Regions from separate parts of the Homo sapiens genome. Here all the other regions are linked to region 3. Evidence: fine-mapped expression QTL. A gene starts in region 3. Each other region holds a variant in brackets. All regions are shown on one strand. Distances are between the middles of the regions.

Region 1 (10,184 bases), 27 kb before region 3:
AGCTCTCCCGGACTAGGAGGAGAGCCAGCACAGAAACCAATCATTGCAATACAGCATGGTGAGTGTGAAGACCGGGGCCCAAAGACACAAAGGTGGAGGAACTGGGTTCACTTTCCTTGGTGTTACCAACTCACTGATGAGCAATCGTGAGGATGAGGAGAATGCCTTGTTATGATATGATTTGTTCCGGCAAGAAGAACTAGAAACAGTGTATGGGAAAGTCAAGGAGGACAAGGAAGGGGTTTCTGTGACTCGCAGTTGTTTTTTGGGAAAAGCACAACACCATGTCTGTCTGGGAAGTCGGGAGGGAGGTTGTAGGAGATGCCCACTGAAGCTAAGCATCTCCGTGCCATGGGTGGAGCCATTGCTGGCTCCATCGCTCCCTCCCCTAAAGAGCTACAATCCTGGAAATGCTGTTCTGTTCCTGTTTCTTGGCTTACTGAGCCCTGCGCTGTCACGGTACCTCAAGGACCTCTCCAACAATGTCTCCAGGCTTCCCTGTGTGTTTATTGGAAACATGTGCATATGGACACGTACTGCACTGAGCCTAGTTCTGTTTATAGACAAAGTTACTGGGTGTTCAGGCTAAACAAGTAGGTCTGTAATCCTTTGCTATTCTGAAAGCAAACTGTCTCTGATTGTGGGAATAATAATATCAAATATTTCTGGAGCACTTTTTTTTTTTTTTTTAAAGACAGGATCTCGCTCTGTCACTGAGGCTGGAGCGCAATGATGCAATCATGGCTCACTACGACCTTGAACTCCTGGGCTCGAGTGATCCTCCTACATCAGCCTCCTGAGTAGCTGGGACTACAGGTACATATCACTATACCTGGCTCATTTTTTAATTATTCGTAGAGATGAGGTCTCACTATGTTGCCCAAACTCATCTCAAACTTTTAGGCTCAAGCAATCCTCCTGCCTCGGCCTCCCAAGAGCTGCAATTACAGGCATGAGCCACTGTCCCAGCCTACTGAGTACTTACGTGCCAGGCAGTGAAAGAGTTTTAATTTTTCATGTATTATTTAATTCAGTCCTCACAACAGCCCCATGGGGTAGGCACCACGATCAACCCATTGTACAGATGAAAAAACCAAGTCCCTTGGAGGTTAAATTATTTGCCTCAAAATGATAGAGCCATTCCATAGTACAGCCTCGATTTGAACCCAGAAGTCTGGCCTCAAAGTCCATATCCTGAAGAGAATATAGCTACTCCCAGAATGCTCGAAAGACACAGAGAACAATAGAAGTATCATGTAGCCCATTGTTTTTCAGACTACAGCTTATATCCTGTTCATGAATTATGAAATAAATGAGTTGTGATCATGTTAAAAAAACATAAATAGAATAGAGTAGAAAGGCATTACAAATTTAAGTATTATCTCAGCTATGCTTATGTGTGTGTACTGGTTGTGTAGGTCATGGTAAAAAATGTTTGAGACCACCAATCTTGCCCAATTTGCTCACTTTACAAATGGGTGAACTCCCATTCAGACAGCAAAGTGATGTTCCCAAGGTTACAGAGCCTTCACAGATAACCTGGGGCTAAACCCTAGGTTATGCTATCAAGGTTAATTGACTGCAAAGAAAACGAAGAAAAAGTAAGAGTGACGATGCTAATAATAGTGGTAATACCAATGCCAGCAATAACAATAGCTACTACTCCAAATCTCATGTTGAAGTCAGATCCCCAGTGTTGGAGGTGAGGCCTAGTGGGAGGTCTTTGGACCATGGGGGTGGATACCCTCATGAATGTCTTGGCATCCCCCTCATGGTAATGAGTGAGTTCTTGCTCCATTAGTTCACATGAGAACCAGTTGTTTAAAGACGGTGGACCTCCTCCTTTCTGTTTCTTGCCACATGACGTGCCTACTCCCCATTGTCTTCTGCCATGACTGGAAGCTTCCTGAGGCCTTACCAGAGACCAAGGAGATGCTAGTGCCATGCTTGTACAGCCTACGAAACCATGAGCCAAATAAACCTGTTTTCTTTATAAGTTATCCCATGTTAGGCATTCCTTTTTAGCAATGCAAAACAGACTAATATAGGGAGTACGCTGATTTCCCCCGTTTTCAGAGAAGGGAGTTCTTGGCCAAGTGCCTCGGCCAATGTCACATAGCTGGTGATAGAGAAGCCAGGGTTCCAACTCAGACAGGCTGGCTCCAAAGTCCCTACTTGTAACCAGCGTGAAGTCTACACGGTCCTGCCTGTCTCAATATTCTTCTTAAATGCTGTAATGTCAATGCAGTATATAACATGGTAGATGTGTTAATATAATCACACACCTGCCACTTCTACTAGCTAAATGTCCCTGGGTAGCAATTCCATATTCATCTCAATTAGGTACTTGGTTAAAACTGAAATAATCATCTTTTTTTTCTACAAATATTTTCTAGATTCCCTTGTCTCTGTCATTCATTCACATATTAAAAACATCATGCATTTGAAGAATCAAGTAGAATAGGCAGAAATTTTTGTAAAGATAAAACTGTACATAATACCCTTCCTTGTTCCGTAAAGAATTAAGGCAATTCACAAGGATACATTAACTACACTAAGATTAAAGTAGATGAGATGCAGGTAAAGAAGATCAAGTAGAGAGACCCCGAATGAAGCCAGGAAGGAGACTAACACAAAAATGCTTTCCTGAAGTCTCTATACTTGCTGCAGGTGGACCACAATTCTGTCCCCAGGTTTTTGTTTTAATGACCTTCAAATTCACATATCCTCATACAAGGGATGACAGCTGACTCTTAAGTTTGTGTTAATTACCTCCTTGAAAGTAATTTTAAAGACTTTCAGATTCACAGTCTCCATAAGGTGAAAACAAATTCCTCGAGGAACACATAACTCCTTCTATGACTGAGACAGAAAATAATTGGTGCATGGGTCCCCTGAGTACAGCATTGTGTAATGCAACAAATAACATCCTCAACATCATTCTTACAATAAGCACAAGGGGTGAAATTTCACAGGGTTGTTTCTGACAGTGTCCCAATAAAGGTTGATGGCATTATGCTCCTATTCCCAAGATGCGTGATAGAATCAGGAAGCTACAGTGTAGATGGACATGGGCTCTGAGCATATTGTTCTTTCCTGCAAAGTCCAGGGACAGACCTGCTTGAAACAAGGTGATCCAAAAAAGGGATACTCAGTTCAAAGCCAGGTGGACAACTCTCCGCAGGCCAAGCCTTTCCCCAACCATTCCAGCCCTCAGAGATTGGGCTCTCCTTTGTATAATTTGGCAACAGCAGAAACTACGTCACATTGCCCGACAATGGGTGTATGTATTCATGATTTTAAACCCTCCTGTGCAGGGCCTACATCTCATGACGTTTTATTCCTAGGGCTTGTCCCTTTGCCCTGCACTCACCGAACACTCATGAACAAATTCAGCACTTGTTGAGGATGATGATGACAACGACCGAATGGTGCTGTTAGAAAAGAACTAATTTAAGGTGCAGGAGGAGCCCATATTTCCCTAGGGACTCTCCCTGTAGACCAGTGGTCTTGCTACATTGCTGCGATGCTGCAGCCTCACCCCACATTCGAATCCCAGATCTTTTCACTTCCCCTTTCTGCTGTTTCATTTCCACAGTGAGAATTCAGACTTATCTACAGAGCTGTCTCAGGAAAGGGGAAGAAGAGATGGTTCCTGATGACCACACCCAGTCACCACAGTGACTGCCTAGAAGAGCCATAGGTAAGACTGAGCTCCCTCTGACCCCTTAATTCTATTGCAAAGGACATCTTGCCTGAAGTGCTGGATTGAGGACCCCCTGGCCACACGACCAGGCAATCTCAATTCTTTAGTTCATGAACTTAAACCTGATGGTCTCTACTGTTCAAAAATGAATCGGGAACAGAATGAAAACATAATAGGGAACGGTCAGCCAAGGTAATAATCAAAATGTGTTGAAGAGATAGAAAAGCTTAGAGGTATTGGAGGTAGGAGGAGGCTCTTGCCGTCTCCTTGGGAGATGATGACAGGCTATGAGCTAAGGGAAGAGAACCCAGTGCCAGCATGGGATTATTGGAGTAAAGCTCCCAGGAGGACACTGGTCAGGTTGGATGATGGGCAGAATCCAACTGATAGAATAATTTGGGTGGTGGCCGGATTAACCTTCAAACAGGTAAACTTGGATAATGCATAAACGTGAGGTACATGTTTGCCTTTTACTTTCAGTATTTGGGCAAGAAGATGAATTGAGAAAAGTCCTATGTGGGGCTTATAAGACTCATATTTTGGTGTAGTTTGATTACAGATTTTTCATACTGGGAAACAGTAAGAGTAAGCATTTGCACACCGAGATGTTGCTAATCCCATATTCAGATATGGCACTGGGTTGCAGTGGACAATTTTGTCATCCAGTTGTAGGAGCTATGAGATTTGCATTGACAAGGAGGTTTTAAGAATGGTTTAAATGGATCTCCTGTGCAAGGTGACCTCTCTGGGCACAGGCAGTGAGTTCTACCCAAGAAGGGGAAGCCCTCTCCCATGGCAGGACACCCAACAGAAGGCCAGGCAAGCTCTTCTTCACACTGGACTGTGGATCTCCCCTGACCCCTGATCTTGGTATCTCTGAGAAGGAGCATCGCTGAGGTCTTCAATCAGGCAATCTTAAGAAACCTCTCTAAGATCAGACAGAGCCTCCTTAAAGAACCTCAGACTTGTCCACCATCTTGCCAAGTCCCTTTCCTATGCTGCCCTCACCAAACCTCCCCCAGAGGCCAGCATGATTCTCCAGACAAGAATCTGGGGAGGTAAGAGCGGCCACACACCCAGGGCCAAGAGATCAGGTACGACATTG[T/C]TGCACCAGCTCCGTCCCAATCCACCCCAAATTTTTGTTCAACACAGGCAATGTGGTACCCAGAAACTTCAGGTTCTAAGATAATTATAATGATCAGAAAAATGCTGGAACAATTAAGGAGGTATGGCAACATTTCTATTAGATTGGGAAACCATGTTCCACCCTCCTTTCTGAAGCTTCCAGGACATTATTATAAACCTCATTCAATCTCCAAGCCAGGAGAAAGCCTTTTTTTCATCATACTGGACGGCACTACTTGTTAGCAAACTGTCCTTTATTTTGAATGGAAATCTGTCTCCTAATAACATCCACCTGTTGGTCCTAGCTCTGCCTTCTGGGGTCACATAGAGTATGTCTACCCTTTCCACATGGCAGCCATCCAGACACCAGAAGAGAACCGTCACTCCACTGCAAGTCTTCTCTTCCCCAAGAGACGATGCCCTTCCAGGACCTCCAGAGGCCTGCCCCAAACCCCCCACCAGCCTGGTCCCTCTCCTCCAGACCCCCATCTGTCACCTAAAAGTTCCTGTTCTGCAGAGCTTTTCTGTATCTGTCACCTAAAAGTCCCTGTTCTGGTTTCCTGTTGGGCTGGAATGCTTTCTGAACATTCCAGAAATTTGTTATGGTCCTCGCAGCCAAACCCACAAAACTCAGATCCCAAGCTCTCACCAAGCAGCCCGAGAACATGTTCAAATCCTCCTCTGGCCCACTCGGCCTGCGAGGGACCCTGCTGGCCCCTGTCCTCTGGTCCCAGGGATGAATAATGAGGTTCTCTCGTTGTTGCTGTTGGCTGCCCCTCAGGTTGCTCATTGATGGGACAGACTCCACCCCAATGTCTTTGCCCTGAGTGTGGAAACCTGAAGGCTCAGGCAGCATTGAACACCCCATTACATCACCCAACTGACTAGTCCCGCTTGACGGAAAGTGAATCAAGACCGGGGAGGTCCTGGCCATTTGCCTCAAAATTTCCAGCAAAAGGTCATCTATCTGTAAGGGCTGGACCTCCAGATTCCTGCCCTGGGCTTCACCCGAGGGCCCCTCCCTCAGTGCTCCAAGTCAGCTCGGCCTGGCCAGCAGCCTCGCTCCCACCAACTCCACCTGCTTCATGCAGCAGCCGCACCTCCCTCTATGTGCCTGCTCTGTCACCATCGCATTGGGCTACACCCCATCACAGTGCCCGCTGCATTCTGCCTTGAGGCAGGGCTCTATCTGCATGACCCCCTCAGTTCCTAGGCTGGGAGCTCCTTGAGAGAAGCCCCTGGGTCCTATTTAGCTGTGCCCCCAATCTTAGCATGGAGCCTGCTGCAAGGCAGGTACTCATGTGAGACATGTTGGGTGGAAATAAACTGATCTCTCAGCCTTACTTGCGTCCAGTCCTACCTACCTCCACTGAGAAAGGTGGGAACTGAGCAGCCCTTCCTTTCAAAGGGAGTCAGGAGAAGACCACTACAGCCATCTGCTTCACCATCTGTCTTCATAGGGACTACCTATAGATGATGAGCTGGGCTGCTCACAGCTTGGGGCCAACAGGCTCCTGTTCCATCCCTTCTTGAGTCCATGAGCTCTCCTTCTCCATGGCTGGAGAACATGCTAGCCCTAGCCCATCGCCTGCCCATCTCAAAAGATAGAAATTGGTAAGGAGAGCCTGGCTGAATTGGGGCAAACCCATTCTACCTACAGTAACTGCAAAGGGCAGCAGGTTTACCAGGAAGCAAAGTGCCTCACAACTATTTTCATGGCACCCCAGGACCAGAAGCTTAGACAACGCCCAGCCTTCTCAGAGCAAACCATACCCCAGAGGCCCAGGGAGGCCCAGTGTAATGCACAATGCCCCACAATGATGCAGGAAAAGTCAGAAGCCACTCCAAGCAGCTAGGTCTCTACTGCTGGTCTCTTTGATTCCACAAGCTCACATAGCCCCTGCCAGCTACTCCCACGCAAAACAAGCAATACTACTGAAGAGCTTCTTCCTTCTTCCTCTATGGTTTCCATGGTGACAAGGGCAGTGTTTGGGCTCATGACAGTGGGAATGAAGAGTGGAAGCTCCAGGTCTTCCTTCCTCATCCCAAAAGACCAGGACAAAAATGGCCTGCTCTTACCTGCTAAGATGAAGATGCCCACAAGAATCAGGAAGACCAGCAGGTAGAGCCCCAGGACAGCATGCTTCAGGGCCGACAGGGACCCCAGCTGGGTACAGCAGATGCTTGCCCGCCGTTTGTGACATGGACCTGGACAATAAGGGTAAGAGGAGGAAGGAAAGAAGACACTTAAAAACCCCATAAGCTCTTTTCTTTTTTGGTCTCATCTCTCCCTGATGCATGCAGATGTTCATGTTGAACTTCTCACATCCCTTTTGCATGTCTAGAATGCAGCCACTTGATGGGGAGCTTTCCAGGACCATCACATTCAGCCTCTAGCTCTCCTCCCACTCTCTGTGTTCATGATCAAGCCAGATCACATGTCCACAGCTCACATGCTCACAAAAACCAACTCTTCTTGAGCTAGTCCAAGCAGCAGAAAGACCTTGAAATAGTCTTGGATATGTGGCTTTAAAAAGTGTCATTGTCCCATGGGATCCAGGGAACATAAAGAGAAATTAAAACAGGAGTTGCAAACTCAAACTTCTACAGTGGCTGGGAAGGTATGGGAATGAGAGAAATGGGCCCAGTGGGACTGTGGGGAGGCCAACGGCACGTGCCTGCTCTGGCAGAGGCTACTATGCAGGGATGAGTGGTGGGTGTGGCCAGATCCAGAATTTTCTACATCTATTTTTAAGGGTTGGCAACTAATTCATCAAACACAAAACACTGGGGAGTGTAAACAAAACACATCTGTAAGCCAGTTCTGACCAGCTTGCAACCTTGCATTTAGATTTGCTAGAAAACATGGTAACCTCATCCTGTGACACTCCTCAGCTTCTGCTCAAAATGGAACAGGGAAATATCCTTGCTGTAGTGGCCTTTTGGGCCATGTAATTCAACCCCTTTGTTGTACAGATAAAGAATGTCAAATGTCAGTTAGCAGCAAATCCGGCCCCAGGACCCAGGTTGATCTTTTAGCTGAACTGGTCCTTCAAGGTGGCCTTCTCAGATGGCCCATGAAGAGGCTTACTGATCTCCAGCTGCTCTGTTGACTGGAAGTGGAAAGAAGGGATCCTCTCCCTGATGTTAGCAGGGCATGTAGGAATCACTGGGTGGGGGCGGCGGGGGGACGGCATTTTTTTAAAAAATGCTTATCCCTTTAATGCTTGTTCCTTACCCCCTGTGGGTAAGACCCCTCTCCAGAAGGACTGTCCCCACTTCAAGAGTGTCACTAAGGCCAGGCACGGTGGCTCACACCTGTAATCCCAGCACTGTGGGAGGCCAAGGTGGGTGGATCACTTGAGGTCAGGAATTCGACACCAGCCTGGCCAATATGGTGAAACCCTGTCTCTACTAAAAATACAAAAATTAGCTGGGCGTGGTGTCGCGTGCTTGTAATCCCAGCTACTTGGGAGGCTGAGGCAGGACAATCACTTGAACCCAGGAAGCAGAGGTTGCAGTGAGCTGAGATCACGCCACTGCACTCCAGCCTGGGTGTCACAGTAAGACTGTCAAAGGAAAGGAAAGGAAAAAGGAAAGGAGAGGAGAGGAGTGTCACTAACTGGAGTGGGCAGAAAAAGGTTGTCAAGAGAGGCTAAAATAATTGATATTTAGAAAACATCCTGAAGGATAGTACCATGTTTGCAATTCCTTCATAGGTTCCCATTTGCAAGGATACCTCAAAGGTTACATATCGCCTCCCAGGTATCATTACTACCTCCTTGGCCTCAGGAGGTTTTATGACCACAAGGAAAATGGTGGTGACTATTGGTACCTTACGATCCACACTGCCCTGGTCCCCCAGAGGTATTGTTATATAAGGAACATTTTCTCACTCATTGACTTCATTTTATTACAAATACTGCTGTTAAACCAGCTAAACAGAGCTATTACATAATATTTCCATAAGACATTGGGTGCAGTGTCGAGCAAGTTGTCAATGACTATTCTCACTCATCCTTACATTAGCAAGTTTTGAAGAGTTGAGCTGATTTTCCGCTAAGACAAAATAGAGCACATCTTTCTAACTCACCCTAAACCTTTTCTGGGATTTTCCATCCTTTACCATACACTAGGCTCTACAAAGGGTTTTGCTCCTAAATATGTAGGCTCCTGGTAGCATTTCTTTTATTTTTTTCCTTCTGGTGAGAGCCACTAGCTGTCTGGTTGCAACTTACCAGAGAAAACTCTGTTCCTCTCAAGAGTCAGAGTAGGAGGTATAGCATTGAATAATATTATACAATTACTGGTTTCATTCTCATGGTGGTAGTTTCAGCTCTCCTGCTCTGAGCCCTGCTGTCTCCTTAGCCTCATGACAGAATAGGAGGAGGAAAATCACACAGCCGTGAACACAGTTAACTTCAAGTTTGCCTTTGTCATCTTCATATGTGTTGCTAGTTCACTGTAGGAGTGGGTCAATGTGCAATGATGTCTATTTTTTCCCCATTAAAAAGAATATTTCCCTTGCCCTCTACCTGAGGCTTCTATTTAATAGCAAGCACCTACTTGTGACAGGTGCCTTAGTCAACCAACACGCAGAACACAGACCTTCCTTTGAGAGAGTTTAGTTCTTTGAGCAAGACTTGGTTACTTTGTGCATTAAACCAAGTATATTTTAAATAGAACATAATGAGGGTTTCAAATAGAGGTTTCCCACAAATGGTTAGACAAGCAGAACATGAATGATCTGGCAAGGCCCTTAGAGAATGATTGCAAGGGAAAGAAGACAATTTAAGACAACGACAAGTCACAAAGGCTGCCCAAAACACATTTATGGACTTTTTTTTTCCAAGTGGCAGAAGCATGTTAGCTGGGTAAACCTTTCAAATTATTTAAACTTAGCAGAAGATTACAAACACTCCAAAATGATCCTATCAGCAAAGCCAGGGCAAAACGTATGCCTACTTTTTTGTTAAAAATAATTTTTTTAAAAATGCACTATCAAGCCATGACAAGACATGGAGGAATGTTAAATGAGTAATTAACTTGGTAAAATAAGCCAATCTAAAAAAGCTACATACCGTATGATTCTAACTATGTGATATTCTGGGAAAAACAAAACTATGGAGGCAGTAAAAAGATCCGTGGTTGCCAGGGATTGGGAGGGCAGGAGGGATGAACAGGCGGAGCACGGGGGATTTTCAGGGAAGTGAAACTCTTCTGTATGATACTGTAATGGTAGATGCATGCCCTTAGACATTTGGCCAAACCCACAGAATGTTCAACACCAAGAGTGAACCCTAATGTAAATGATGGGCTCTGGGAGATAATGATGTGTCAACATAGGTTCACT
Region 2 (10,184 bases), 44 kb before region 3:
TTAACTCTCGGGCTGCACGGTACTGCAGAAGTGTTACGCTGACTTGGCCCTTTCTTGTGCTGCTTGAACATCCTGGAGTTGGGCTGCCTTGAGTGGGTTGGAGGGCTGGAAAAAAAAATGCCCTTTGCTGCTATCTCAAAGCATCTTCATGCTTCTTAATGCTGAAGCCTGCTTTGCCTCTCTCATTCTTGGAAGTAACTATATCCACTTTACCAAGAACATGAAAGCCATTTAGCAAGAACACCATCTCCTCTGCATCATTTAGCATGAATGCCACCTCCTCTGCACCTCACCATAGTTCTGCAAACACACTGCTTCTTCTCAGATGAGAGTAAGAAGCATCCCTCTTCCTGCTCAAGGTGACCTGCACCCTCTGTGTTCCATTCTGTTCCCTGCTGGCTCCTTGATAGGAAGCCAGTGGTGGGAGAGGTGCAGTCCTGTGATGCCTTGAAGGAGCCATCCAACATAGAAGCACCAAGAGGTTGGAAGGGTGGGGTGTGTTAGGAGGTTGCATCCTAACTAATGAGGGTACCCCACAAGATAGCCCTCTAAATATTTGAAGATGGATCCCCTTTCCTTAAGGTTTCCTTTGCCAACATGGCAAAACCCTGTCTCTACTAAAAATACAAAAAGCTTGTGTTTTTACAAACCAGGCATGGTGGTGTGAGCCTGTAGTCCTAGCTATTCCGGAGGCTGAGGTGGGAGGATCACCTGAGCCTGGGAAATGGAGGCTGCAGTGAGCACTGCACTCCAGCCTGGGTGACGGGAGTGAGACTCTGACTAAAAATAATTATAAAGTCCCTTTATTGCCAAAGTCATTCTTTCCTGAATGTGTTTTAGCTTAAATGCATCCAGCGGTATGCTGATAAATGTTTAACAACTGGTTCTCCAAGGGGTTGGGGAGAAGCCTAAGCTGTGGTGCTTGCCAATGTTTGAGGTGTAAATATCCCACTATGACCGACTTCAAGCTACCAACATGACATCATTGACTACGGAGTTAGGAAAAGACGCACGTAATCAGAGCTGACCAGCACACCACTGTCTGCAGCCACCTTACATTGCAGCGGTCAGAGAGGAAAACAGCAATGAAGAGGGTTAGAAAAGCCACATTTGATGACCACCTTTGTAATAACTGACTCGGGCAAGAATTGTAAGTGGATGCTAAAATCATGGAGTGAAGGATTGCTGGCAATCAGTGTATTTACACAGCCTCAGAGTGTCTCCCCACAGATCACTTCTTAATCAGAGGGAATAAAAGATAGCTTTACAGTAGATTATTCTGACCAAATTTACCTTAACCAAATTTACCATTACCAGTACAGGAACAAATTGACACAATCCACCTCCTCAAATGACTTAGAAAGTGTTACTGCCAAGAAGGTTTAACCTACGTCAATCATGGGAAAACAATTAAACAAACCCAAGTTAAAGGACAGGATAGCAAGCAACTGGCCTGCATTCTTTAAAATGTCCATGTCATGAAATACAGTGAAAGGCAAGGAACCCATCTAGAAAAGACTATGGAGCCATGAAAACCACATGTATATTCTGGATTGGATCCTGCATCAGGAGTTTTAAAAATGGTTATAAAGGACATTCTTGGAGCAACGGAAGAAAATTAAATATGGATATACTGTATTTATAATCAGCATTAGATTTCTTGAATTCAGTAATTGTATAGTGGTGATATAAGACAATGTCCTTGTTCTTGTAAATACACACTAACATATTTAGGGGTGAAGTTTGCAACTCACTGTCAAATGGTTCCACAAAAATTAAAAATGGTAATAACAAACGTGGGGCGAGAAGAGAGAGCAGGTACACGCAAATGGCATAAAATGTTAACAATATTAAAATGAAGGGTATATAGCACTCTTTATAGCTTCCAACTTCTCTGTAGGTTTAACATTTTTTAAAAAATAAAAAATTAAGACCAGGCATGGTGGCTCATGCCTGTAATCCTAGCACTTTGGGAGGCCAAGGTGGATGGATCACCTGAGGTCAGGAGTTTGAGACCAGCCTGGCCAACATGGTGAAACTCCATTTTGTAAAAATAGAAAAAAAAAAAAAAAGTAGCTGGGCATGGTGGCAGTTGCCTGCAATCCCAGATACTTGGGAGGCTGAGGTGGGAGAATCATTTGAACCTGGGAGGCAGAGGTTGCAGTGAGCCGAGATCACGCCACTGCACTCGTCTGGGCGACAGAGCGAGAGCCTGTCTCAAAAAAAAATAATTGAGGTCAGGCGCTGTGACTCATGCTTGTAATCCCAGTACTCTGGGAAACTGAGGCAGGTGGATGACTTGAACCCAGGAGCTCAAGACCAGCCTGGGCAACATGGCAAAACCATCTCTACTAAAAATACAAAAAATTAGCCAGGTGTGGTGGTATAGGCCTGTAGTGCCAGCTACTCAGGAGGCTGAGGTAGGAGGATCATCTGAGTTCAGGAAGAAGAGGCTGCAGTGAGCTGTGATTGTGCCCACTGCACTCCAGCCTGGGTGATGGGAATGAGACTGTAAAAAAATAATAATAAATTGAAAAAAAAAAAAGGAAACACTGAGGAGTTGTCTAACCTGCATGGAGCCAAATAATACTGGTGCCTCCCTTATTCTCTATGAACGTAACTTTGATCACGATAGCTTTTGGTGGCAGGCATGTCACACACTGACTCATAGACTGCATCCTGCCAAACTCAAACCCTCAACCTTGCTTTAAAAACTGATGTCAAGCCGTGGCTTCCCCATTTGTGGGGCACTACTTCATGTGTGTCCATATTAATTGACCAGGTCTAAGCTATCTCTCTGGGTTTCAGCCTTATTTTGGGTTCTGATTCCGCATTCCTTTAAATTGAGTGCTGATCTCTGTGAACCACAAAGACAACAAACATGTCATCCGGGATTTAACTACATAAAGATTTATGAAGCATACAGGTTGTGCAAAGCAGCAGGTTGGGTACAAAGAAATCAACAACAAGTAAATAAGATGTGAGTGTCAATCATAGCCTTCTGGAAGATAAGAACCAGGTCTTATACTTCCTTGGTCCCCCTATAGCACCCCATGGTAGTGAGTATGTATTAGACACTTTATAAATGCCTGATTTGACCTCACATAGTAACCAGGCAAAAGGCTTAAACAGCCAGTCTCCTTAAGAGATGACACAATGAATAATCAAATGTATGGAAAGCTTGATGAGATTATTAGCTATCAAAGAAATGCAAATTTTAAAAAAGGAAATCTCTAAAAGTAATGGAACAGTGCTACATCATGCTGGCAAGACCGTGGTGAACGCTAGTGTGTTTAAACATTGCTGATGACTGTGCAAATATTTTTGGAAGGCAATTTGGCAAAAAGTATCAATAGCCATAAAAATGTTCACATCCTTTGCAAAATAGTCTCTCTCCTGGGAATTTAAGAAGTAACCCAAAAGAAGGGAAATGCTACAGCAGTGAGAAATTTATCACTCTCTTATTTGTAGCAGTGAAAACCTAGAGAAGTCGTGGATGAGCAATTAGGAACAATTAAATCATGGTACATTAACCAGATGAACTTTAATGAAGCTCTAAAAATGACAACCATGAAGTCTGCCATGTAACAATGTGGGACATGCATACGCTATCACAGGAAGCAAGCACATACACACAAAGGATTAAAAGAAAACCAGGATTCGTGAAAACAACTGACTTTAGAGGAGTGGAATTATGAGTGCAGCCTTCTTCTCTGAAGGGATTGGCTCCAGGATCCCCCACAGAAAATCCTCAGATGCTCAGGTCCCTTCATTGGACCTCCTGTATTTGCTGGTTTCACATTCTCAAATTCAATCAACCACGGATAGAGAGAGGACTCAAAGGAAACCAGCCCTGTTAGCACCTTGATCTTGGACTTGCAGCCTTCCTGAGAGAAAGTAACTACATCTATTGTTTAAGCCATGCAGGCTGCGGTATTTTGTTATGGCAGCCTCAGCAAACTAATACAGACTGTAAGAGACAACCCAGCCAGCCAGGGCTAATTTGGCTCTATCTAAGGGTAGGACCAGGAGCCCCAGGCACAGTGGATTATGGGTCATTGTAGGCACCACCAAGTGTGCCCAGGGCCAGAGAGAATCTGACGAGGCCTCCTTTGCCCTCTTCATCCCAGTGAGTGGAATGCCCCCCTTTCTGATTTAGGAAGGGGTGGGCCTTGGGCATCTGCATTTCAAATAACAACCCACCCCTCCCTGATTTCTGTTTTAGCAAACTCGTTGAACTGAGATCCTGCAGAATGACTGAATTCATGATCCCCTTAGCTTTTGTTTTTTTTCACTGTTCTCCTTCAGTTTCTTCTGTCTCTCCTAGCGAACAGAGATCCCAGGTGGTCAGAATATCCTGTTGGGCTTTTTTTTTTTTTTTGAGAGGGAGTCTCGCTCTGTCACCCAGGCTGGAGTGCAGTAGTGTGGCTTTGGATCACTGCAACCTCTGCCTCCCAAGTTCAAGTGATTCTCCTACTTCAGTCTCCCGAGGAGCTGGGACTATAGGTATGCACTACCACGTCCGGCTACCTTTTGTATTTTTAGTAGAGACAGGGTTTCGCCGTGTTGGCCAGGCTGGTCTCGAACTCCTGACCTCAGGTGATCCACCTGCCTTGGGCTCCCAAAGTGCTGGGATTACAGGCATGAGCGACTGCACCCAGCCTCTGTTGGACTTCCAAGGGCAAATTGGCTTAAAAATCCAAAGGGCAAGAGATTCTGCTTCTGGGTACAAGCCCAAAAGAATTGAAAGCAAGGGCTTGAACAGATACCTGAACACCCATGTTCATAGCAGTATTATTCACAGCAGCCGAAAGATGGGAGCAACCCAAATGTCCACTGACAGATGGATGGATAAGCAGAATGTGGTCTAGCCAAGCAATGAAATAGTATTTAGCCTTACAAAGGAAGGAAATTCTGACCCCTGCTTCAACCTGGATGAACTTTGAGAACATTACGCTAAGTGAAATAAACCAGTCATAAAGGCTCACGCCTGTAATCCCAGCACTTTGGGAGGCCCAAGTCCGAGACCAGCCTGAACATGGCGAAACCGTGTCTCTACTAAAAAAAAAAAAAAAAAAAAGTCAGGCATGGTGGCACATGCCTGTGATCCCAGCTACTTGGGAGACTGAGGCAGGAGAATTGCTTGAACCCGGGAGGCAGAGGTTGCAGTGAGCTGAGATCACGCCACTGTACTCCAGTCTAGGTGACAGAGTGAAAAGATAAAATAAAAACATGATAGACAAACACTGTCTGATTCCACTGATATGAGGTCCCCAAGAGAAGACAAATCCATAGAGACAGAAAGTAGAATGGGGGTTGCCAGGGGCTGGGGGAATGAGGAGTTCAGGTCTAGTGGATGCAGTTTCAGCTTGGAGATATGAAGAGTTCTGCTAGTGGGTGGTGGCGATGGTTGCACGGCAATGTAAACATGCTTAATGTCACTGACCCTTACACTTAAAAATGGTTAAAATGATAAATATTATGTTCTGTGTATTTCACCAGAATAAAGAAAATTCTAAAAGGTAACTGAGGAGGGGAGCTGGGTGGGGTCGGGGGTGGAGGACAGATTTGGCCTCGGGCTGGGTTGCAGGCCTCCTCCCCAGGGTGAGGGCGGTGACTTAGGGGAGGGTCTGGCTGCTCCAGGCAAGC[A/G]ATTACTCAGACTCAGCCTTGGCCACACCCAAGGCCACAAGATATATGGGCCCTCTGGGAGGGAGGCAGGGAGGCCCCAGCTCAGCTTTCACAACTGAAGTCTCAGGACCTGGCTGGGAGCCACGAGCTGGAGCCTTCCTTCCCCTTCCCCTATCTTCTCTTCCATCAAATACAAAGGCGGCAGGGCCTGGGGCTGGGCCGTTCCACCGGCAGGTCAGGACCGCCAGGCCAGCCTTTCTGTCCACTGGGCCGAAGGGTGTGGCCCGGTTCCATGTGTTTGGGATTTGAGCAGCTAGGGGCCTGGAGAGCTCTTCAAACTGGCCAGTCCCACGGGGCTTGGTGGGTAACATTCCCCAGTCCCTCTCCAAGGAAGAAAAACAAACAGCTGAGCGCAGGAAGCCTAGCTGTGGGACTCGCTCCAAGACTGAAAGGGGAGGAAAAAACGATTCCAGCCCCAAACGCCTAGTTAAATTGAAAGCAATGGACTACAGACGGGAATGGGCACTTTTCCATAAGCCCCAGCCTTATCAAGGAAATTTAAAAATCCATCCTTGAGAGTTCATGCGTTTTGCTTTGTAATTTGCAATGTGGTGTTATGGCCGTTTGTGTATATCGATGTGCATAGTTTATATTGCAAAAGCAGATATTATAAAAACCCACATGGCCAGGCTGAATGAACGAAGCACAAGCGGGTGGAGCCCACAATTGGCTTGGTGCTAGTATTCTTTGTGGGAAGCCACCCTCCTTGTCCCTCACTTCGGGGTGCCTCAGTTTCCCTATCTACTTCTTGCTCAGAGGCTGGTGGTGTGGTGGACAGAACAGTGAGCTTCAGGGGACCTGAGGCCCAGGCCTGTCTTGATCACACATGAGCAGAGCCCACGTGGCTCAGAGCTTGGCTTTCCAGCTAATCTGTATTTCCTCAGTAGAAGCCAGGTGGCAATCACAGGGGAACAGCAGGGATTAGTGAGACGGAGCTCTTGACCAGGAAACCAGAGTCAGCCCAGCTTTGACCTTAACCACCAGTGCCCTTTAAATTTAATCAGCAACTATTTATTTTCTCCTATGAGAACTATCAACCTCGTTGGACCTCAGTCTTCTCATCTGTGAATGGGGATAATAGTGTCTCCCTCAGAGCAGTGGGTGAGGCTCAAGTAACCTATTGGATGGGAAATATGATTATTACTGTAACCGTAAGGGTGGAGTTGGGTGAGGTTGGCAGCTACCATGTGGGAGCATGGGGGTCTTTGGGACACTATGGATTGAGTAGCTCAGGAATCAGGCCACTGTTGCCGCATAACTCAGCCTGGAAGCAGGGCAGGCAGATCGGAGAGCAGCAGCAGTGCCTGACTCACCTCCTGTCCTCCTTCCACCCCAACCGCATCCCATCAAGAGGGCTTTTCCCCGTGGAAACTCACGCCCACGGTACCCGGAGCTGGATGGGAAAAGCCCCTGCCTGGCAGTGTCTCAGGTCTGAGTCCTCCCCTACAGCCTGCCCGGGTGCAGAAGGGGCCAGGGACATGGGTCTGGCTCCTGAAGAGGCCCTGCAGGTTGCAGTGGGGTGGGACCTGAGGGGAGCCACTGCCCATCCACAGAAAGAAGGGCTGTTGCAGAAAGTTCTGGAGCTGGACTAAGCTGGCCTTGCTGATGGTGCTGCTAAGCATGAACAAGCAGGCTGGCCTTGGGCAGGTCCACCAGGGCCTGAGCAGAGACCTAGGGAGGCTCAGTAATGTGGCCAGCCCACCGTGGCTCCTTGTGGTGAGAAAGGGGCTGAGAGCCTGGAAACGCTGGGGGAATGCCACCCACTGGCCACCTGGGAGTGAGTCCTTGCAGCCAGGGCAGGTGCAGAGCCACCAAGGAGGGGAAGGGGTCTAGCACATCCTCCTGCCAACTGCATGCCAGCCCCAGGGGCTGAGGCAGGGACACCCACACGCTCTTTGCCATTAAACCACCTATGTCTGCACTTTGACGCGAGCCAGACCTGGGGGTTGCCAGGAATATGCACGACTACCTGGAACCTGGTCCAGATCCCTGCCTTGTAAGGAGACCCCCACCCCACACACACCCCCAATCCCATCCTCGAGCAGACCCTTTCCACACAGGCCTCATGCCCGTGCTTGGGGGGCATCCCAGCCTGCACGGCCAACTCTAATCCCCACCTAATGCCGGCAAGCAACCCTCCCTTTGTCACCCTCTGGCCAGCACCGTGGTTTCCCTCTCCCAGAACAGCCCAAAGGACCTGGAAGAAAGCTGAGGCTTTGGGGAAGGGAATTCCAGTCCCAGGTCCCCAGAGCATGACCCAGAAGGAGGGACATGTGAGCTCCAGGTGCCATGTTCTCTTAGCCCTCAGGATGCCTCACCTTGTGGGTTGGGAAGCGGCCAGAGGGACAGAGTGGGGCCCTCTAACACATGGGGACTAGGGCAGGTGCCTTGGTCTCAGGAACCTGAGACACTTAGCAATGCCTCGGAATCCAGTGCCAGCACTTTCCTTGAGCGTATATTAACAGACAGCACCTCTGTACCCATTCAACCGATCGGAACGAGCTCTGTGACAAAACTCCTATTTCAGCACTCAGCTTTATGGGAAAAAAAAAAAAAGGTCAGTGTGGACTAAGCCATTTATTCCACAGACCTCACCAATAACTGCTGTTATAGTACCATACACAGGGACTCACCCCTTCTCAAGAGGAATGGTGGGTGCTTAATACATCATCTCATCTAAGGGTCTCCACGTTACTCAGAGGATGGCCTTAGGATCCCCACTTTACAGATAAGAAAACTGGTGCTCAAAGAGGTTTAGAAATTTGCCCAAACTCATGGAATTTTTAAAAAGAGCAGAATGGGTTTGAAATGCAAGTCCATGTAATTCTAAAATTTAGGCTAGTGAATGATACAGAGGGATTCATATATGTGCCCCCAGAAAGGTCACAGTTTAGTGTGGAGTCAGACACAGAAAACCGGTATCAATGCCTGAGCAGGACAAGAGCTGTGCTGAGTGGAGCAGGAGGGCAGTGTGGGAGCCGGAGCTGTGGTCACTCCCAAGGTCCAAAAACTGATCGGCGCCAATGGAGCTCTGAAGGTCCAGCCCAGAAATTCTCAACCCAGAGCCCCCAACAGAACCTTTAAAGAGCCCCAAAGTAGACATGGGTTTTCTTGGTGACCAACGAATGACTGGTGACCATTGATGTGTCAAGTGGTCAGGCCCCCGAGGCTCACAGGGGCAAGGCCCCCTGCCCAAGGTCACACAGCTTGTGGCAGTGCCAGGGTCAGGAGACCCGAGGCTGGACCTCCGGTGCAGAGGCCCGTCCCGTCCTGCACGGTGCCATCAGCGACTGCCCATGGCCACACGGTAAGGCAGAAGGCAAGTGTGCTCCACGCCAGGGAATGTGCCTCCTGTACCCAGAGGAGGAAGGAAAATCCTTCCTCTTCCTCATGCAGGGGAGGTTCCCTGAGACAAGGCTGGAGAAGAGGAGGTCCGGAATCCCTTCTTCCTTTCAACATTTTTCACGGGGAATGACTTCGAGCGAACTCGAACACACCAGAGAATTCCAGTCCCAGGTCCTCAGAGCATGACCCAGAAGGAGGGACATGTGAGCTCCAGGTGACATGCTCTCTTAGCCCTGAGTGCACAGGGTGTTGCTTAGAGCAGGTCACTTTTGCAGGATAGTGTCCCCTGCAAACTCATGTCCACCCAGAACCTATTTGGAAATAAACTCTTGGTAGGTGTAATCAAACTAAGATGAGGTTGTATTGGGTTGGGGACCAATATGATTAGTGTCCTTAGAAGAAGAGGGAGATCTGGACACAGAAACAGACATGTAGGGAAGAAGGTTGGGTGTCGATGGGAGCGCAGATTTTAGCAATGAGCCTACAAGCCAAGAAACAAAGGGGTGGCTGGCACCCCCAGAAGCTGGAAGAGGTAAAGAAGGATCCTTTCCCACAGCCTCTAGAGGGAGTGCAGCCTTTGCTCGTGCCTTTTTTGGACTTCCATCCTCCGAGCTGTGAGAAAATAAATTGTTATTTAAAGCCACCCGGTTTGAGGTACTTTGAGCAGTCCTAGGAGATGGACACAGCTGGGTGGTTGTTTTCTGACCATCTGGCAGTTGGAGATCAAGGGTTGGGGTGGAGATCCCAGTCTTTATGGACCAAGTCCTTGCACAGGGAGTGGTCAGGGGGCTTTCTGCCTTCGTTGCCATCACCCAGGGGACACAGGCTGCAGACCCTGCAGAGCTACTTCCCTTAGCCCTGTACTCTTCACTCCTCACAGCCAGCAAGACCTTCCTGTGGGCCTGAGAGTGACAAGCCATGCAGAGAGGCAGAATAATGAAAAATCCTATCATTCCCTGCAAATTGGTGCAGTCTTTCTATTAAGCCTTAAACATATACCCACTTTGACAGCAATACCCCAAGTAGGGACCTATCCTAAGGAAATTATTGGCCGTATGGACAATGGACTGTGTGCAAGCATTATTTATTGTAGCGAAACACTGTGAGACAGAGTGGATTTTTTTCCCACTCTCTCTTCACCCCTTTTCTAG
Region 3 (10,184 bases):
TCAAAATATGTTTGTCAATTGGAATCCAGAAGAAGAGCCACCATGGTGGACAATCCTAGGGCTGGGTGAGCAGGTTCATTGGTCAGAAGCCCAAATCTCCTTGTGTCCTCTGCCTGCAGAGACTCTCCCCACTCTAAGCCACCACGGTTCTTTCCCTACACTCAGCGCCTTGTGGGAGGAATGCAGGGTCGGAGGAAGAGAAGAGTGGAGTCATTGCTCTTGAGTAATTTCAAGAGGCAGTTGGCAGAGTGGAGCAAAACAAGAGAGGAAAAGGCCTGTCTCTCCTTGGCCGGAAGTCTTTGCAAGGCTCCTCAGTAAGCTTCATTCTATTTCTCTTTGACGTGGGGGCAATGCTCTCCTCTCTGACATGTGCTGCATGCAGCAAGAACTTATCAGTCATCTACTGGGTGCACAGGAGCCAAGCTGGTGGAAAAGCGCTCTGGGCTCCTCCAAAGGAAGCTGCATCACTTGGATCTCCAGGGTTTTAGCAAATAAGCAGCCCCTGAGATGCAAGGCCTTCTGGGTCACTGGCCTGGGGACCCCTTTCTGTGGCAAGACCAGGGCCTTGCACCCAGGGGCAGGATGAGCACCTTGGAGAGCTCTTTGCCCCTCACGAGTGCTTCAGGAAGTGGGTGGGAGGCCCCTCTCCTCACCTGAGAGGGTCTGCACTGACTGGCTCAGAGGCCCTTGCCTGACCCGAGTCTCACTCTCTCAGGAGCAGAAGCATGGCCCTCGGAGTCAGGAGGCTCCATGCTGGACCACCATAAGACTGATGGACTGTGAAATCTGTCCATCTGTAAAATGAGTACTCATCTTGCTGACAGGTTTGTGGAAGTGAATGAATGAGAAAACCCATGGAGAAGACCTTTTAAAGCATAAAGTTCAATATATGCACTATTACATGAGGAGGTCACAAGCACTTAAAGGCAATGCCAAGGTTGGGTGGTGGTAGGGCTCCTTCCCCACCCCCAGGCCAGATCTTGTGCCCCAAGTCTGAGCCAGCTGCACTCACCATCCTCACACAGGTTCAGCTTGGACAGGCTCCTGCCATCAAAGGAATCCTCACAGATGGAGCTGGTGTCACAGTCGCTGACGGTGTGTAGGTACATAGCTTTGTTCTCCATCACACCCTGCAACAGCTGCAGAGAAGGCAAGAGGGGAGGAGAGGGAGGACGAAGGCCGGGAGAGAGACAGAGAATCAACTGTAGGTGGAAACAGAAGCAAATGGATAGAACAAGGTGCCCACCCCTGACCCTAAGCCTGAACACCGGGACCCTCTGCTCATCACCAGGACCCAGGTGCCATCCTCCAGGTCCTTGGGGCCGTGATGCCCCCACTCCCAGCTTCCTCAGGGCTTCAGAAGACCAAGGCCCTTGGGCCTTTCTGATGGTGGGATGTGTCCATTCCTTTCAACAACTCTCAGTGGGGCTGGAATCCTGAGCTGGGGTCACTGTGGGTTACACTGGGTGGGGCCAGGAGGAGGGAACCCTGCTGACTCAAAAGGTAACCTGAGAGCAGGCTCTGAGCCCTCAGAAGCCCGGGGCATGCCAGAGAGACTTGAGCTTCTGTTCTGTGTTGGAAATGAAGGAAGGAAACTAGATATGAAGGGGCATTCAGAGGGGGTACAGAGTCCACTTGCAAACAAAGCTGAGCAGACCAGGACTGCTCCCAAATCCAACGGGGCTGGCATGTTGGAAGGAGCTTGGCTCAGTAGGACCACAGCAGGGATTCATCTACTGTGGTGGGGCCCGAGGAGCAGGGAGCCTCTGAAGGGACACCCAGGCACTAAGCATCTGGACAGCTTTAGGCCAGGGAGGGCTTCTGTCTGCATGGCCCCCAGAGGCTGACTCATTGGGTCTCTGGGTCTACGCCATGATGGTCCAGGAGCATATACATTGACTTAGGAGAATCCTATGCTCTTTGAAAGGAAACAGCCTGTTGACGCAACAATGTGTACAACACGATCCCATTTTGTAAGACATGCACGCGTAAGGTGCGTGTGGATGTAAGACGCTATGATGGCTCCGGGTGAGAAATGTATTACAGGACTCTGGCTGGAAGGGATTGTGGGGATTTAATATTCCTTTTTGCTTTCAGATTTTCTGGGTTTTCTATGATGCATTTACATTCCTTATGTAATGAGAAGAATCTGTTTTTTAAGCCAAATTACAAAGTATATACATCAATTTCTTGATATTGTTTTTGTCACATAAATGCTCAGTGACTTTACAAATTATTCTCTACTTTCATCAAGGTTCCAGCCATGAGTTTATCTTGACCTTTGCTTCTGATTCTCTTTAACTATCTGGACATTTAACCAAAGAACAGCATCCTTTAGAAGATAAAAGCCCCATGAGGATGGGTCCCAGGCCCAGTATGGAGCAAACTCAACCCTTCAACCCAGAGGAGGCTGGGAGGAGAGGATGCAGGGCTGGCAGGTGGCAGTGGGGGGACAATGCCTGTTGATTGAGAGATCAGTCAATCAGTTTCTCTTCAGAGGGAGGGTGGGCAAGGAGGCGTGGCAACTTTCATAAATAGACATAATCAGGGAAGGCGGCTGGCGGGGTTGCTCTGCAGCAGAGCAAAACAAGAATTCCGTATTTTCTTTCTTCTTTTTTTTTTTCTGTTTCTTTCTTTCTTTTTTTTTTTTTTTTTTTTTTTTGAGACAGGGTCTCACTCTGTTGCCCAGGCTGGATGGCAGTGGTGCAGTCTTGGCTCACTGCAACCTCCGCCTCCCGGGCTCAAGTGATCCTCCCAACTCATCCTCCTGAGTAGCTGGGATTACAGGCACAAGCCACCATGTCCAGCTAATTTTTTGCAGAGATGGGGTTTCACCATGTTGGCCAGGCTGGTCTGGAACTCCTGGAGTCAAGCGCTCCACTGGCCTCAGCCTCCCAAAGTGCTGAGATTACAGGTGTGAGCCACTGCACCCAGCTGAAGCCCCTATTTTCATGACTTGAGCTTGGCCTCCACAGACCTCTGACATTTGGGCTGAGAAGAGACCAGAACTGACCAGTCACTGTATACATGTCCTTCTAATGACCCAGGAGGGCTGGACGCCTCTGCTGTTAGCCCTTCTGTACATCCCCCATAACGGGCACACACACGCATGTGCACACACACAGCCTTGGGGCTCCCAGTATCTGCGGGCCTCTCCTCCAGCCTATGGGAGGGATGGAACAGGGGGTGGTCCTCGGCTCTGCCAGGATCTCTCCTCCCTGCCCCAGACACCACCCACTCTGGCTTCCCTGTGCTGCAGTGGTGTCCAGTTCACTGGGCTCCCAATTCCGGCCCTCCACCCAATGCCTCCACCCAGGCAGGGCCTCTAGGTGGGGCCGCGGGCAGCTCCAGCACTGCTAAGTTGCAAGGGACCCTCCCTCATTTCATGAGCACTGTGTGCGGCAGCCCTCCCTCTGGCTTCACTCCTTGCGGGGCTGTGAAGCAGGAGGCCAATGTCTCTTTTGCCTGCAATAACCCTCCCTCTGCCAAAGGCAATAGCCTCTGCTTCCCAGAGGCCACACAGAGCCAGACAGGGCGCTGCCCCTGGGGAGTGGAGGTGTGAGGCCCCACTGCCATTTCCACCTTCCTCCTCTTCTGGTCAGCTCCTGGGACGGGGCTGGAATGCACGGCTTGTTAGCCAGAATGTGTGTGAAGGGCAGCTGTCTCCTTCCTCCTCCCCACCCCTCAGCTGGTCCAGCAGGAGCCCAGGGGATCTGCTGGGGAGAGGGACTGGGGCCGAGCGGGGCCAGATGTGAGTGCACAGGGCTTGGAAAAGCTCAGACAACTCTACTCATGTTTGTTACTTGGAATTGAAACCTACGCATGTTCTGTCTGCCCAAGGTTTCTTGGGGGCTGTTTTTCTTTCTTGGGGGAGGAAGCAGGCATTGGGACCCTCAGATCATGGATCTTACTGTCTTTGGACCAAGTCTGTGCTCTAGAAGATGAAACTGATGGCAAGTGCTCCTCCCAGGAGCACTGTGTTGGGGGTAGGCTGATGGCATTTGCATTCCGTCCCTCCCATTTTAAACATAAGCCATCCCAGACCAAAGAGGCAAAGGAAGGAATGGATATCAGAGCGGGAAGAGGCCCCGGGCACAGTTTTCCTACACAGGGCACTGGCTCAGCTGCAGGGTTGCTTTGTTTGGGAATTGCATGTCAGCCCCTTTGGTGACCACTTTCTGGGCCCCAGATCAGGCAGAGAAGAGAATCCCACCTCAGACTGCCAGCCAGTGTACTCCAGCAGGTGGGGATCCTGGGACTGAGGCAGGGCTCTGAGAGCTTGAAGCACATGGGCGAGATGTGGAAGCCACAGTGACCTGTGGATGAAGCCCAAGGAGACTGGACCTCAACTTGCAACTCAAAGAGGGAGGTCTTGCTCTAACAGGGAGGTGTCACCCTCTCCACTAACCTCTTGGCAATCATGATTTACTTCCAGACAATTTCACCCAAGGCACTTAGAAGGGCAGGTTCAGAGCCAGGGATCTGCTTCTAGATTCTGCATTTTAGAGCTGGAAAAGCCCTCAGCCATCTGTGCCCTGCAGCCCTGTGCCCTGGGGCCATCTGCGCCCTGCAGGCCTGGCTCTCTGCAGGAATGCAGGGAACACAGAAGCCAAGGGCTCCCATCCTAGCTCCTCTGCGTATTGGTTTCTTGGGGGAACTTGGCTCAATTACCTGACCTCATTCAGCCTCAGGTACATGACCTCTAAGATGGGAAGGTGGGTAGCTGCTGGTCACCCAGGATCACTGTGAGCCTCCCGTGAGATAATGCATGTGGCATGACTTTATGAACAAGGTCACTCAGGGGAGCTGGTGGCAGTCTGATGAGAAAAAGCATCCCCCAGCATCTTCTGACTCTGCCTGGCAGCCAGGTAAGGGGGTGTCCAGGTTCCCAAGGCCTCCCTCCTACCTAGCCAGTCTCAGAAACAAAGCTGTTTGAAGTTCCCTTTGTAAAAGGCAATCGCGAATGCACTCTAGGGCTGATATCAGGACCCTGGCTCTTCAATCCTTCTCTGGAGATCAGAAGGACTCCATTAATTCCTCCTCTGAGTGGGTAGCACGAGCCTCATTTGCTGCTACCAAGTCAGTTTCTCTGGGTACCCGCATCTAACTCTGCAGGGTTTATGGCTTTTCTTTGGATTACCTCACTTTAAACTCATCAAAACCAAGGAAAAAAATCACATGAGTGTGGCCCTTCTCCAAAGAGAGAATCACTAAGGAGGTTTTAAATGTTTTCCTCCTCTAACTGTACTTAGTTAAGCTAAATCATAACCCAAAGCTGGACAGAGACAGATATTTTAGAAATAACCTCTCCCCACATATATCCCACCACTGGCACATGCACACGCACAGACATGCACACACACACACATGCACACACACACACATGCACACACACACATGCACACACACACATGCACACACACGAAGCCATGGAGAGGAGCTGTCACCTGAGCCATCTGCACCCTGAGTAGGCTCTTGAGCTGTGACATGAGTCAGGTGGAGTAGCCACCAAGGCAATAGCTTCCCTCTGGCACCCCAAATGCAGGCTCACATTCTCTCCAGCCCAGGCAGTTGGATGAGGGCCCGGCAGATATCTGCGGGCCCAGCAGGCGGGGACCTTCCCACCTGGAGAAGGCACCTCCAGGCTCTAGGTCTGAAGTTTCCCAAACTCTGTACTCCTCTCCATCCAGTTCACTCCAGTCTCCTCCAGCTGTCTTTGAGACAGCATGCCCAGGAGATAGGACAAAATTAGTACCAAGACTCACCTGAGTGCCCCTGGCTGAGGCTGTAGAGCCTTGTCCCCTCAGATCTCAGCATTTGCCATGGTGGCCAGAGAGCTGGCTGCCACCACGCTGAGAGCCAGGCCGCCCCTCGGACCGCGTCCCCACAGCCAGCCAAATCCAGATGGAGTCATAGAAAGGGGCTGCAGGGGCGCCCAGGGACGAGTCTCAGAGCAGGACCACAGGGGCCACTTCTGCAGGAGGACCAGGTCAAGATGCAACCTGTGGCAGAGTGGGGGTCTGGGCCTGGGGGACCCAGAATGGGGGGTGTGCGCCTGGGACTCCCTGTCCTTGGTGCCTGGTCCTGGGTAGCGATCAGGAGATGTTCTGAGGAGGCACCGGCAGCTCCTCTAGGTACTGCCTGAGATGCGAACTGCAGCTGCTCTCGCCGCCAGTCCGTATAAAATAAAGTTCTTGGAGCAGTTGCGGAGGCTTCTGCAATGGGGTCTGGAATACGGCCCCCCTCCTGCGGCCAATCGTGGCATTACAGCCCCGTGTGGGAACGCCCGCTGGGCCCAGAGCAGCGCGGTCGGCCTTGGCCTTGGGACTCCAACACCCCAGTCTAAAGGTCCTGCTCAAAATACTTTTTGGAAGACTTCTGGGGGAGTGGCAGCTAGACCTGGCTTATGAGCCACGCAAGAAAACCAGTCTTGTAAATTTATTTATAGCACAGAATTGGCATGGCTCAATTCATTCACCAAGCTTGGCACAGAGTTACTTCATGTATTTTCCTGGAGTCACATTCATCCTCAGTGGACACGGATTGGCCACACTGGGGGTAGTCAGGAAAATGCCCCAGGGGGTTCCACGGAACTCAGCAGCAGAATCAGCGTTTCTGGCTCATTAACGCTGCACAGGGGCTGGGGGGTGCAGGATGAAGACTAGCTGGCTGTCCATAGCAATTCAGTATGGGAGGGGGACCCAGGCACGAATAATCCTAAACCTGAGCATGATTGCTTACGTTTGAAAAAGGACATCTAGGCCGGGTGCAGTGACTCACACCTGTGGTCCCAGCACTTTGGGAGGCTGAGGTGGGAGGATTGCTTGAGCCCACCCACAAGTTCAAGACCAGCCTGGGCAACATAGTGAGACCCCATCTCTAAAAAAAAAAAAAATCTCTTTAAAGGCAATCTAACCATATGTGAAGGGAGCTGCTAAATTCAGATTGAGGTGGTAGTATCAGGGGCATCAGAGAAATCACCATAATTGTCCAAGCCAGGGTGGCAGAGTTAGGCTATGCAGATGGCTTCCAGAGGACAGCACCCAGAGGTAACATTCATGAATGCATTCCTGTTTGTTGGTGAAAAGTTCAGCCTCAAGACTCCAGGGTCAGGCTTCGTACATGAAAAGTGTTTGCCAAGACTCAGCTGTGTCACTGCAGCTGCCCGCCCACAGCTGAGTCAGAAACGCCGTCCTCATTCTCAGTGACTGCCCTGCCTGACTGCCTAGGAAGCAGCTCCAACATCAAACTCCATTTTACAGAAAGAACAAATGATAATTGTATCATTATGGTAATAATCCCAGGGAGCGGAGGAGGAGAAGGAAAAGAAGACAACACTTTATAGCATATACCATGTGTTTCTTATATATTAGCTCATTGAACCTATTCAACAACCCCCTGAGGCAGGTGCTGCTATTATGCTCATTTACAGAGACAGAGAGGAAGTGACTTGTCCAGGGTCTTGTAGCCAGTAAGTGGCAGAGCTAGTATTCAACCCTAGGCAATGTGATCCTAGGGTCTATGCTCTTAACCCCTCCCCTGTACCATTGCCTCTCAAGGGGAAACAAATGTTTTTGTCCCCCATCAATTCACCAACATTCCTAGGAATGTAATCTTAAAAACAGCCAGAAATGTGCTCAAAATATGATGTCCAACCAGCCTGGGCAACATGACAAAACCCTGTCTCTACAAAAAAAAAAAAATACAAACAATAGCTGGGCGTGGTGATGCACACCTGTAGTCCCAGGTGCTTGGGAGGCTGAGATGGGAGGATCAACTGAGCCCAGGAGTTTGAGGCTGCAGTGAGCTGTGATCGCACCACTGCACCCCAGACTGGGTAACAGAACAAGATCCTGTCTTAAAAAAAAAAGTGATGTCCAAAGACCTTCCCTAAAGAGATGTGTATGTTAGCAAGAAATGTGGTAGTTAGTGTCCCCCTAAATTCAAGCATTGGAAATGTAATCTTTATTGCAACAGTGTTGGGAGGTGGGGCCTTTGTGGGGGTATTTGAGTCATGAATGTATTTGGGATGCCGTAGAAAGGGCTTGCAGGAGTGGGCTGGCTTGATCCTCTGCCTTTCTGCCATGTGAGGACTCCACGCTCATCCTCGCTTGTCCTCCCACCTCCCGCCCTGTTCGAAGCACTGAGTCCTATTGCGTGATAGGCACATACCACACACAATGTGTATATCGGTCTCCTGCTGAAGGGGGTTTGGGATGTTTCCAATCTTTGTCTATTATGAATAAAGCTGCCGGAACAGGCAAAGGGAGATTTGACAGTGAAGTATAGGAATGACCTGGAGGGCTGGTTTTCTCATGGGTGAGAGTCCTCCCGGCAGCTCTTAGCTCAGATACCTCCTTGCCACTAAAATCAGAATTGTCCCCAAAATGATTTGCTTCCATTCAATCACGGATGGCATTTGTAGTAGGCATTTCCCCCCCAGAAGCTGAATGAAAATGTGATTGCCTTGATAGAGGAGGGTTCAATAGACTTCTGAAGTAGTTTCATCTATGAAATCTCAGTATTTGAAATGGAGGGACCAAGCTTTTTCAGTTTGTTTTTTCTAGAGGTAGGATGTCACTTTATCACCCAGGTCGGAGTACAGTGGCACAATCATAGCTCACTGCAGCCTCGACCTCCCAGGCTCAAGTGATCCTCCCACCTCAACCTCCTGAGTAGCTGGGGCTACAAGCACATGCCACCACACCCAGCTAATTTTTTAAAATCCTTTGTAGAGATGAGGTCTCGCTATCTTGCCCAGGCTGGTCTCAAACTTCTGACCTCGAGCAATCCTCCCGCCTCCACCAGCCAAAGTGCTGGGATTACAGGTGTGAGCCACCATGTCCAGACTCCATTTTTGACTCTGATAAATGGTGCTGCTGTGAACATTCTTGTGTGTGTCTTCTGGGGAACATATGAATGCCATTCTCTTGGGCATATACCTGGGCATGGAATCGCCAGGGCATAGGATGGCCCTGTGTTCAGCTTTGGTAGACACTGCCAAAGAGTTTCCTATGGTGGTTGTACTAGTTTATATCCAGCAGGGGATGAAACTACACTTATTCCTTGTCCTTGTCAGTGTCAGTGATGTTTATTCCATTTTCCCTGCTCTGGTGCATTGTAGAGGTGCCATATTGTGGTTTTAATTTGCATTTTCCTGATGACTCATGAAGTTGAGCACCTTTAATTATGTCATTAAGTCTGATTGTTGACTTGAACTCTGGGCCCGTTACACCAGCAGGTCCTGCCCTATGGCTTGGGGTTGGCTGTTCCATCTGCCTGGAGTGGTTCCACCAGATGTTTGCACAACTAACTTCTTTGCCTCATTCCCATCTTTTCTCAAATGTCACTTTGTTCATGCTGCTGAGCCTAATGATTCCTACCCACAGGCCAGGCATGGTGGCTCACGCCTACAATCCCAGCACTTTGGGAGGCCAAAGCGGGAGGATCACTTAAGGTCAGGAGTTTGAGACCAGCCTGGTCAACATGGTGAAAACCTGTCTCTACCGAAAATACAAAAATTAGCTGGGTGCAGTAGCAGGCACCTGTAGTCCCAGCTACTCGGGAGGCCGAGGTGGGAGGATCACTTGAACCAGGCAGGCCGAAGCTGCAGTGAGCCAGGATTGCACCACTGCACTCCAGCCTGGGTGATAAAGCGAGACCTGATCTCAAATAAATAAATAAATAAAATTGCTACACACCCCTTGCCACTCTTAGTCCCCCTCACCCTGCTTGGTTTTGCTTACTGTCTGCTAGAACAGCAGCTCCAGGAAGGCAGCTCACTTGAGTGCTTCAAAATGCCTAGCAGGGTGCCTGGCGCACAGTACACGCTCCAGAAATATTGGTTGTGTGACAATCTGAGGAAACAGCATCAGGCACAGGGAACAGAAGGCTCAGAGGCCTCAGTATGGAAACACACTGGACATGCCGGAGGGGCAGAGAAAGGCCCAGTGGCCAGAGCACAGAGGATGCAGTGGCCAGAGAGAGGAGGTCAGGGGAGAGGGAAGCCTGGGTCTCACCCTGAGCACAGAGTGGAGCTGAGGCCACGCCCTTCTTTTTTGTCTCTATCTTCTCCCAGGGAACACATCGATCCTGTACTGTTCATATTTTTGCTTCTTTTTTTTTTTTTTTTTACATATTTCTTCATTATAGTTTGCTACTTCTTGTTTAAACTTTTTAAAAAA

Direction of the effects. Alleles are on the strand shown, and positions count from the first base shown. SD is a standard deviation of normalised expression in the study named.
In carriers of allele T in region 1, the expression in subcutaneous fat of the gene that starts at base 6,182 in region 3 tends to be higher than with C alone (small effect, 0.25 SD a copy in GTEx).
In carriers of allele A in region 2, the expression in spleen of the gene that starts at base 6,182 in region 3 tends to be lower than with G alone (moderate effect, 0.66 SD a copy in GTEx).

The links. PIP is the estimated chance that this variant, and not a neighbour inherited with it, causes the effect. A credible set is the group of variants that fine-mapping cannot tell apart.
Region 1: its variant is the best candidate, but not a certain one, in a credible set for the expression of SCARA5 in subcutaneous fat (GTEx, PIP 0.84).
Region 2: its variant is the best candidate, but not a certain one, in a credible set for the expression of SCARA5 in spleen (GTEx, PIP 0.55).

Annotation. Positions count from the first base shown.
Region 1 is chr8:27,959,504-27,969,687 of GRCh38, forward strand. It overlaps SCARA5 (scavenger receptor class A member 5), which reads right to left. Exons shown (of 9, transcript NM_173833.6): 3 at 6,911-7,039. Among named protein-coding and RNA genes, the nearest start is that of SCARA5, 28 kb to the right of the region's middle. The variant T/C (reference allele first, on the strand shown) is at 4,812.
Region 2 is chr8:27,942,649-27,952,832 of GRCh38, forward strand. All of the region lies in intron 3 of SCARA5 (scavenger receptor class A member 5), which reads right to left. Among named protein-coding and RNA genes, the nearest start is that of SCARA5, 45 kb to the right of the region's middle. RefSeq lists enhancers at 6,720-7,221, 7,222-7,721. The variant A/G (reference allele first, on the strand shown) is at 5,650.
Region 3 is chr8:27,986,492-27,996,675 of GRCh38, forward strand. It overlaps SCARA5 (scavenger receptor class A member 5), which reads right to left and starts at 6,182. Exons shown (of 9, transcript NM_173833.6): 1 at 5,766-6,182; 2 at 1,013-1,139. The coding sequence starts at 1,124.